2 separate regions of the Homo sapiens genome follow, and region 1 is linked to region 2. The links come from fine-mapping of genetic effects on gene expression. A gene starts in region 2. The other region holds a variant in brackets. All regions are shown on one strand. Distances are between the middles of the regions. Region 1 overlaps RNGTT (RNA guanylyltransferase and 5'-phosphatase). Region 2 holds the start of RNGTT (RNA guanylyltransferase and 5'-phosphatase).

Region 1 (5,193 bases), 160 kb before region 2:
TAAAATTTTAATGTTCCTTTCTGACACTGAGATAGAAATTAGATCAGTAATTGCCAGAGGCTTGGGGGGTAGTCTTTAATGAGTTTCAGTTTTGAAAGATGAAAAAGTTGGCTGGGCATGGTGGCTCACACCTGTAATCCCAGCAATTTGGGAGGCTGAGGCGGGCAGATCATGAGGTCAGGAGTTCAAGACCAGCCTGTCCAATATGGTGAAACACCATCTCTACTAAAAAATACAAAAATTAACCGGTGTGGTGGCGCGCGCCTGTAGTCCCAGCTACTACTCACAAGGCCGAGGCAGGAGAATCACCTGAACCCAGGAGGCGGAGGTTGCAGTGAGCCAAGATTGTGCCACTGCACTCCAGCCTGGGCAACAGAGTGAGACTCCATCTCAAAAAAAAAAAAAAAAAAAAACTAAATTCATAGCATTTCTGCTGAGCAATGATGCAATAAAAACCAAATACCACAATAATCTCTTTTTTCAAAAAAAAAAAAAAGGTTAAAAAAATGTAACCTTTAATCTTTCATTTGCTCTACTTGTATTGTAGGTACATCATTTATGGCAAGTTAACATGGTAGTTTCCATTCTTCAACCAAACTTCTCAAATTCATGTAATGGACCATGCCTGTATGTAAAGTAACAATAAAAAATAGCCAGTTAGCAAGACTCTACATAACATGATTCTACCTGCTGCAGAAATGAAAGTAATTTCATTTTTTATTCTACTCTTTTTATAAATCAGAGTATTTAAAGGACTGAAAATTCATGGGTCAAAATAAGAGTTCCTCTGCATTACTCTAGACAATATTTTTTTCTTTACTTGACACATAATATTTATGATATCACCTATCATGTATCAAAGACCTACAATGGAGTGTTGTGCTTGGTACTTAACATATCATTCAAAATACATAACTCCTCATGAGATGTGTATTCTCAAGTTTTGAATTATTACTCAATTTGCCAGAAAAGGAAACTGAGGTCATCAGACATAAGCAACTAGCTTTAATTCAGAGAGTAAAGTAAAATCACTCAGAACAGATTACATCAGACTTTAACTAAAAATAAAGAGATAACTAAATAAAGTCTTATGACTCTCTGAAACAAATGCCCCAAAGATTTCTGCAAGTTCCTAAATATATAGGTCCTCCAATAGCCACTTAAATTTTATAGACTTGGCCAGACACAGTGGCTCACACCTGTAATTCTGGCACTTTGGGAGGCTGAGGCAGGGGACTGCCTGAGGCCAGGAGTTCAAGACCAACCTGGCCAACACAGCAAGACCCCATTTGTATATTTAACAAAAATTTTATAGACTTTAAATGCATTATAGAATATACTATATGAATAAAGTGAATATGAAGGGAGATAAAATTCTTGAAGGAAAAAAGGTTTTCTAAGAATAGAGATGTAATCTAAAAATGTTATTAATATTGTATACTTTATATTAACTGATTTATATATTCATATGAGATCATATATGTAATGTGTTTATTAAATTAGAAATATTAGCTTTTGTTTATTTACAATTCTTAAAAAAAAAAAGTATCCAAACTTGTTACGGCCATCTTCCATATATCAGTATCTTCATCATTAGAGCCAACTTTTAAGTCATTTAGCCAGTTTCCATTATTTTTCCTGCTGCTGTCTCTGATTTACAGCATTCTTCAAATCATACATGAGATTATAACTGCAGATGTTATCCCAAGCTACAAGTACTGGTTGACTAATGTTAAGAAAATGCTTTTTCCCCTCATTCATTCCATAGATCTATGTTCATAATCTTAGAAGTGCTTTGCTCTTTGAAGATACCTTTAAAAGGTTGGTTTAAGAAAAAGTTCCTCATTCATTTACGATGTGAAAAATAGTAAGAGAATGCTGCTTCTACACTGATGATAATAAAAAAGCAGATAATCTATCAAATAATAACTTTTGTTATGGCCATCAGAAAGCTGACATCTGCAGGCAACCAAATAAACTGAATCCCAGCCCCTCCAAAGGAGGGTGAAGTATATGAACTCATGTCTTCTTTGGTAGAGAAAAGGAAGAGGAAGTGGCAGCCATAAGTGAGTACAAAGAAAACAACAACTGACCAATTCTTAAAAACTAAGTCTGGGCGAGTGGAACAGTTTAGAATCCCTGGAAGCCCAAAACACAAGAGATACAAACTTTTTCTCAGGCTTCTATCAGGCTTCACAAGAAAGACCACAGGCAGGGCAGGAAACATGAGAATGCCCCCACCTTGGTTGGGCACAGACGTTAAAACCCTCCTGCTTTCCAAACCCTTCTTGATATGATGCAAAAGTTACCTGGGAATAAATCCATATGCAGCTATACAAGAAGCTGGAGACAGACTTGGACCAATGATATTATATTGATAAAAAGCAGAAAGACTTGGTCCTGACAAAATATCCCTATGCAAGGCAAAACTTCACTGGCAAGAGGGAGAGGGAAGACCCACTGAGGAAAACCCCATGCCTGCGATTCAGGTGCTCAGGTTCTGCTTAATACTAAGGCTGGAGAAGAAAAACTAAGAAAACTCCACAGTCTTCACAAGTCTGGCACTGAGCGGCAAGAAACAGTTGTTTACATATGGGGAAAAGTACTAGAAGTATGAAAATAGAACACTCTGTGGTACAGGGGAGCAGAGCCTACTGAAAGCTAAACGTGAAACAGAAACACCAGGAGAAAACCCTTTTATACTCTAGGCATTACAATAAATACAAGTAACAGCAGCCAACTGCTGAGAAAATATAAATTCTTTGGAGCACTGAAGATGTAATTATATAGCAACACATAGAACAGGCTGATTCAACCACTACCCCTCCCCACCCACAAATGAAGCCTATTAACAAACTAAAAGAAGTATGCCTGTTACCAAGCATAAAGATACTTACCTCAGTCTCTTTTGTTCATATAGGAAAGAAAAATCCACGAAAGACGTCTAATTTAAAAATTCTGTCTCACACACACACATACACAAAGGAAAAATAAATGGCCTATATTCAAAGATAAGGCAGTCAACAGAAGCAGACAAAGAGAGGGTCT[A/G]TATTTTGGAATTATCAAAGACTTTAAAAATAACATTTACAAAAAACAACAGATGCTGGCAACGTTGTCGAGAAAAAGGAACACGCTTTTTTTTTTTTTTTTTGAGATGGAGTCTCACTCTGTCGCCCAGGCTGGAGTGCAGTGGCACAGTCTCGGCTCACTGCAACCTCTGCTTCCCGGGTTCAAGAGATTCTCCTGCCTCGGCCTCCTAAGTAGCTAGATTACAGGCGCGCACCACCACACCTGGCTAATTTTTGTCTTTTTAGTAGAGAGGGGGTTTCACCATGTTAGCCAGGATGGTCTCAATCTCCTGACCTCGTGATCTGCCTGCCTCGGCCTCCTAAAGTGCTGGGATTACAGGTGTGGGCCACCGCACCCGGCCTGAAAAAGGAACACTGTTACACTGTGAGTGGGAGTGTAAATTAGTTCAACCATTGTGGAAGACAGTGTGGTGATTCCTCAGAGACCTAAAGGCAGAAGTATCATTTGACCCAGCAATCCCATTACTGGGTATATACCCAAGGAATATAAATCATTCTATTATAAAGATATATGCATGTGTAAATTCATTGCAGCACTATTTATAACAGCAAAGTAATGGAATCAACCTAAATGCCCATCAATGATAGACTGAATAAAGAAAATATGATACATATACACAATGGAATACTATGCAGCCACAAAAAGGAACAAGATCGTATCCTTCAGGGACATGGATGGAGCTGGAAGCCATTATCCTCGGCAAACTAACGTAGGAACGAAAAAACAAAACACTGAATGTCCTCACTTATAAGTGGGAGTTCATTGATGAGAACACATGGACACATGGGGGTGAACAACACACACCAGGCACCTGTGGGGGGCATGGGGAGAGGGAGAGCATTAGGAAGAATAGCTAATGGATGCTGAATTAATACCTGGGTGACGGCATGATCTGTGCAGGAAACCACCATAGCATGTGTTTACTTATGTAACAAACCTGCACATCCTGCACATGTACCCTGAACTTAAAAGTTGATAAAACAAATAAATAAATAAAAATAACATTGTAAATGATCTAGACAAAAAAGTGGAAAACATGCATAAACGGATATGGAGTTTCAGCAGAGATGGAAACAATAAAAATGAAACAATTGAAAATGCAGAAATAAAAACACACAACATCAGAGAAAAAGAATGTTAATCAGTGGGAATGATAATCAATGAGATTATCCACAGACTGGACACAGAAGAGAAAAGTCACTAAACTTAAAGAAGAAACGTACGTGGCACTTTTTCCAACTGAAATACAAAAAGAAAAAAAGAGGGAAAAAAGAAACAGTGCTGAGAATCAAAGAGCTGGGAGACTACAGCCAAAGACAGAACATTTGTACAGCTGGAATGCGAAAACAAAAAGAAAGATACAAGGAAGCAAAGAAACCAACTGAGAGAAATAATGCCTCCAATTGCTACAAAATTAATTAAACACATAAACACAAACACACACCCCAATGGACTCCAAGAGGACAGGAAGAAAGATTTAAGAAAAACAAAAAAAAAAATGTAGGTTTATCATAGTCAAAACCCAGCAAGAAGGGGGAAAAGATTACAGGCAGAGGAACAAAAATAAGATTGACAGCAGACTCCTTATCTGAAATTACGCCAGCCATGAGACAATGAAACCTCACCTTTAACATACTAATATTAATAGAAACAATGTCAATCCAAAAATCTTTAGCAAATGAAAATATCTTTCAATAATAAAGGCACAGTAGAGTTCTTTTTCAGACAGACAATAGCTGATAAAACATATTTCCACCAAGCTAGAATATAAGAAATTTTAAAAGAAAATTTTCAGGTAGAAGGAATATGATACAAGAATAAAATCTGTATCTAAACTGAAATAATGAAGGGCATTGGAATGGTTAAAAACTAGAATAAATATAAGAAATCTGTGTTCCTCTTTCTTTTCTTACAATATAATTGACTAATTAAAGTAAAAATATTAACAATGTATTGTAGGATTTATAACATATGTAAAAACAAATTGTATAAAAGGAAATGAGGTAAGAACCCCAACTAGGAAGTGGCATACTATTATTTAAAAGTAAATTGTGAAAACAGACACTATAAACCTTAGAACAACTGCTAAAATATACACAAAGA
Region 2 (5,193 bases):
TATGTGCCAATGCACCTGGCTGTGTCTCATATTTACATTCCCACAGTTCCTAGTAAGCTCTTTACATAGCAGATATGAAATAATTTTATGTTGAATGATATATCTTTAAGAAACTAGGGAGGGCTGGGTGCGGTAGCTCACACCTGTAATGCCAACACTTTGGGAGGCCAAGGCAGGCGGATCACCCGAGGTCAGCAGTTGGAGACCAGCCTGGCCAACATGGTGAAACCCCATCTCTACTAAAAATACAAAAAAGAAAAGAAAAGAAAAGAAAAAAAGGAAAAAGGAAAAGAAATTATAAGTTTGTTTTCTTCCAAGTATTCACCTGAAATCTATTAACTCAGAAGGAGGAAAAAACAGTTCTTCAGAAAATAAAGCTTGGCCCTGTCTCCAAGAGCTCTCTCTCATTGCAAGTCTGGTTTCATCAGAGAAAGTGACTTCACAGAGAAACAAATTATATGTAGTTAGTACCATTTTCTTTCTGATTCAGGAAAATTATGAACTTCTAGTACTAGTAAAGTGAATCCTAACATTTACAACATATAAGTTTGAGCAGCCATAACATTTTCCTCAATATGCAAAATATCAAAGAAATTACTGTGATGGTTAATACTGAGTGTCAACTCGATTGGATTGAAGGATGCAAAATATTGATCCTGGGTGTAGAGGGTGTTGCAAAGGAGATTAACATTTGAATCAGTGGGCTGGGAAAAGCAAACCCACCCTTAATCTGGGTGGGCACCATCTAATCAGCTGCCAGCATGGCTAGAATATAAAGCAGGCAGAAAAATGTGAAAAGACTTGACCGGCTTAGCCTCCCAGCCTACATCTTTGTCCTGTGGTGGACGCTTCCTGCCCTCAAACACTGGATTCCAAGTTCTTCCATTTTGGGACTCAGACTGACTCTCCTTGCTCCTCAGTTTGCTGACAACCTATTGTGGGACCTTGTGATCGTGTGAGTTAACAGTTAATAAACTCCCCTTTACGTCTGTATGTGTGTGTGTGTATGTATGTGTGTGTGTGTATATATATATATGTACATATATTTCCTATTAGTTCTGTCCCTCTAGAGAACCCTTACTAATAAATTACACGATAAGTACAAATTACTTTTTTTTTTTTTTGAGATGGAGTCTCACTCTGTCACCCATGCTGGAGTGCAGTGGTGCAATCTCAGCTCACTGCAACCTCCGTCTCCTGGGTTCAAGTGATTCCCCTGCCTCGGCCTCCCGAGTAGCTGGGATTACAGGCACATACCACCACGCCATCATAGCTTTTTGGCTATTCATATAACTTATTTTGTGAAGTGTCCAAATTTTTTGCTAGTTTTTAAGTCCTTTGAATTTCTTCTGTATAATACATTGATGGTGGGACTATCAAGTGTTACCACTTTGGAAAAGAGGTTGGCAGTTTCTTAAAATTCTTAAAACATACACCTACCATATGATGCAGCCATTCCTCTCCTAGAGACTTACACAAGAGAAATGAAAGTATATGTCCACACAAAGAATTGTACATGAATGTTCACAGCAGGTTTATTTGTAATAGCTAAAAACTGGAAATAACCCAAATGACCATCAATAGATGAACAGGTAAACAAATTGTGGTATACCCAGAACAATAAACTACTACTCTGCAATAAAAAAGGAATAAACTATTGATACATGCATAATCTGGATGAGTATCAAATTAATTATGCTGAGTGAAAAAAGCCACACACACTTCCTTCCACCCCAAGAAGAGTACTCACTATATGTTTCCATTTATTTAAAAATTTCTAGAAAATGCAAACCAATCTATAATTACAGAAAGCAGATCAGTGGCTGCCAGGCGAAGGAGGGATTTAAAAAGGGGCAAGAGGAAACTTTGAGGGGTTTCATGGTTGTTTCCTAGGAAAGAGATATATTTGTGTATATACAGTCAAAATTTATCAAACTGTACGCTTTAAAGCTTATTGTATTCAAGCTCAATAAAGATGAAAAAAACTACAAGAAAAATAATTAAAAAAAACAAAAACCCGGCCAAGCGGGGTGGCTCTCGCCTATAATCCCAACACTTTGGGAGGCCGAAGTGGGAGCATCGCTTGAGTCCACGAGTTCAAGACCAGCCTGGGCAACACAGTGAAACCCTGTCTCCACAAAAAATAAACAAAAAAATTATGGCCAGGCACAGTGGCTCACGGCTGTAATCCCAGCACTTTGGGAGGCCGAGGCGGGCGGATCACTTGAGGCCAGGCGTTGGAGACCAGCCTGGTCAACACGATGAAACCCTGTCTCTACTAAAAACAAAAATTAGCCGGGTGTGGTGGCACGCGCCTGTAATCCCAGCTACTTGGGAGGCTGAGGCAGTGAGCCGAGATCACGCCACTGCACTCCAGCCTGGACGACAGAGAGAGACTATGTCTCAAATATATACATTATAAATATATATATACTTTAATAAATAAAAAAATTAGCCGGGTGCGGTGGCAGGAGCATGTAGTCCCAGCTACTTGGGAGGCTGAGGTGGGAGGATCCCCAGCCCGAGCAAGAGACCCTGTCTCACAAGAAAATAAAAATAAAAAACTAACAAAAACACCCTCCAGATTCCCAGTCTCAATGTGACCCCATTTCACCGCTGGGAACCGCCCCTTCCCTCCTTAACCCTCCTCCATCTCAATACTGATATTCATCCCTTCTTTCGAGGGGAAGGTTGAACCCTAACAGGTTCGCAAACTACTAAGACTCAAAGTACGCCCACTGTATTCCTGGATCCTCACCTCCTGCCACCAACCTCCTGTCTACCTTCACATTCGCACAGTTAGCCTTGCAGGAATAGTAACAAGTGCCCCCCATCCGCCGACCATCCCCTCCCGTTCATGTTCCCATTCATCCACGAAGCGTAATCCGACGGAGCATATCCCGCTCCTGAAATACCACTAATGGGCACAGAACCACCAAAAGCTGAGCTCCTCAGTCGGCCCACCCCCGGGCACGTTGGAGTGTGGGGATTCGAACGCCCCCCAGTCCAGGTTACCTGCCACCGGCTGGCCGCGCCGGGGACAGTTCAGCCACCGCGGCGGGATCTTGTTGTGAGCCATGTCTTGGGGCTGCGCAGAGCTGCCCTCCCTCACCAACGTTCACCGCGCCTTTGGAGCCGCCTCCCCGTGGTCCGGTGCACACCGGGGTCCGAGACACCCGAATCGCAGCCGTAATCTGAATTCCAACCTCTCCGATCCGGGTAACGTCAGGGGCGGCGCGCCACTTTCATTCAGGATCAACTCCACAGCTCCAGGAGAACCCACAATGCACCGCAACTTCCGCCCCCGAAAGCCCCGCCCCCTTTCCGAGGTCAGAGGGAAAGAAGAGGAAGCTCAGCGGAAGGATAGCAAAGAGTTAAGGACGCGACGAATGGGAGGAGCGGGCCTTCTCTCGCCCCACTCGGCACCGCCCCGCCCCGCCCCGTCCCGCTCCACGGACGCGCCCGGACGCTACTGGTTCGCCTTTGCGCATGTGCAATTGCCCTCGTACCGAACTCCGCAGGACGAAGCGTGTATTTTTTTCCCATCCAGACAACCTAGAGAAACCCAAAAAAGAGGGAAGCCAAGCGCCTTTCCATGCGTAGATTGCCCGCCACTTCCGTTAAGGCATCTATTTTACTGATGAAAAGAGGCCTTCTGAGCGTTACCACAGCTCAAGCTTGGCGTCCCAGCCGGATCTAGGTTTGATTTGCAATTAGGGAAAGTTGTTCAAGGGAACAAGTCTTAGGAGAATTCTAAGGACATGAGATTGGAGTACCAGAAATGGGGAATTTTTCTTTTGGTGAGTACTTACGAGGATCTATGAAGCTTCTGAAATTAATTCCAGAACACTTAGAGTTTTGTTTGTACATTTCTGGATCAAAGTTTCAAAGCATACTGGGGAGTTTGAGAGGGTCCATGTCTCCAAAAAAAGTTACTAATTAATGTGGTATAATTGACAAAGGTAGGAATTGATCAGTGGAGAACCTCTTCGTGGCGTTGTTCTCCTTGGCCTACCAAATAAACAGTGCCTTTTATTTTCCCTTCGAGTTAAGCAGAGGTGCTTGAAAAATTTTTATAAATGCCGTCCTTTAACGAGCCTTTCCTTTGTTACCAGATTAAAGTGTTAAATATAAAGCTGGATGATGGCGAATCAATTATAATGTAGTTTGGCTTTAAACACCAATGCTATATTGGAACTGCAAGAACGTAAGGCTGCAGGGAATACATTTTTAAAGCGTCGGTGGGGAACTTTCTGGGACGCTCAACCCCCTGAATGCCTGGACCCCCTCAGTAAGAGTCCCATCAATAGAGGCAGTCCAACAGCAATCTCTCTGAGGCAGCCTGAGTTAGGTCACACTTCTGGTCTGTCCTGCTGTTGCATCTGCTCAGAACTGTTAGTGAAGGTGTAAACTCCTCCCCTGACAGAACAAGATAATACCCAGTTTCCTTTAAGGCCATCAGTCTACCCAAATAATCTCCGATGAATTCCCTTTTCTGCTGATAGAGTGTGTACCATGCCCAAAGTGGTAAAAACCTTCCATCCCCAGACCCCCTCCAAGGATGGGAAAGGTGAGCCTGATCCTGGAAGAGTATCTTACCTTCCCCTTCTGGGGATGACTCCCCTTGGTGACTCCCCTTCCCACACACGCTATACCCAGTAGCTCAGTCCTAGGCACACAGAAGCTTCATACCACTGGCGAGCAACTGTTATTGGCTGTAAGGCAGCAATGTGCACTGGATTTTTATTCTGCTATCCAGTTATGCCCTCTCCATACTCATTGCCACAGAATTGGGAGGACCCTGTGGCTACCTTTTGTCCACAATAGAGAGTAGAGTAGGAGAGTGGCATCCCGATGAGCAGGCAGTTTCTCTCTGCCTGTCAGGAATGCCTTGCCTGATGTGTGTTTCTGCCTATATTGCTCCTAGTCCCAAGTTTCTACTACTCTGTGAGAAGAAAAATAGATGCTCACAGACAGACCAACATGATTCCTCCCCCGCTTCCTGGAACCCCTGACACCCTCCCAGATATGTCTTGATCTCCTCTTTATCAGATGTAGATTCTCTTCATTGGTGAGTCTTTCATCAAACATCCATTTTGCCCATAAGGAAGAGTGTGTACATGTAAAAAATAAGATTGAACGTTCTCTTTTGGCAAAAGAGAGAGATCTTATCTGTCTTCCCTTTTCCTAGGA

What was found. PIP is the estimated chance that this variant, and not a neighbour inherited with it, causes the effect.
Region 1: its variant is the best candidate, but not a certain one, in a credible set for the expression of RNGTT in whole blood (INTERVAL, PIP 0.69).

The regions. Positions count from the first base shown.
Region 1 is chr6:88,803,185-88,808,377 of GRCh38, forward strand. The region is part of intron 11 of RNGTT (RNA guanylyltransferase and 5'-phosphatase); the gene reads right to left. Among named protein-coding and RNA genes, the nearest start is that of RNGTT, 160 kb to the right of the region's middle. The variant A/G (reference allele first, on the strand shown) is at 3,049.
Region 2 is chr6:88,960,331-88,965,523 of GRCh38, forward strand. RNGTT (RNA guanylyltransferase and 5'-phosphatase) reads right to left here and starts at 3,288. Exons shown (of 16, transcript NM_003800.5): 1 at 3,016-3,288. The coding sequence starts at 3,079. RefSeq lists enhancers at 1,707-2,633, 2,988-3,367 and a silencer at 3,351-3,585.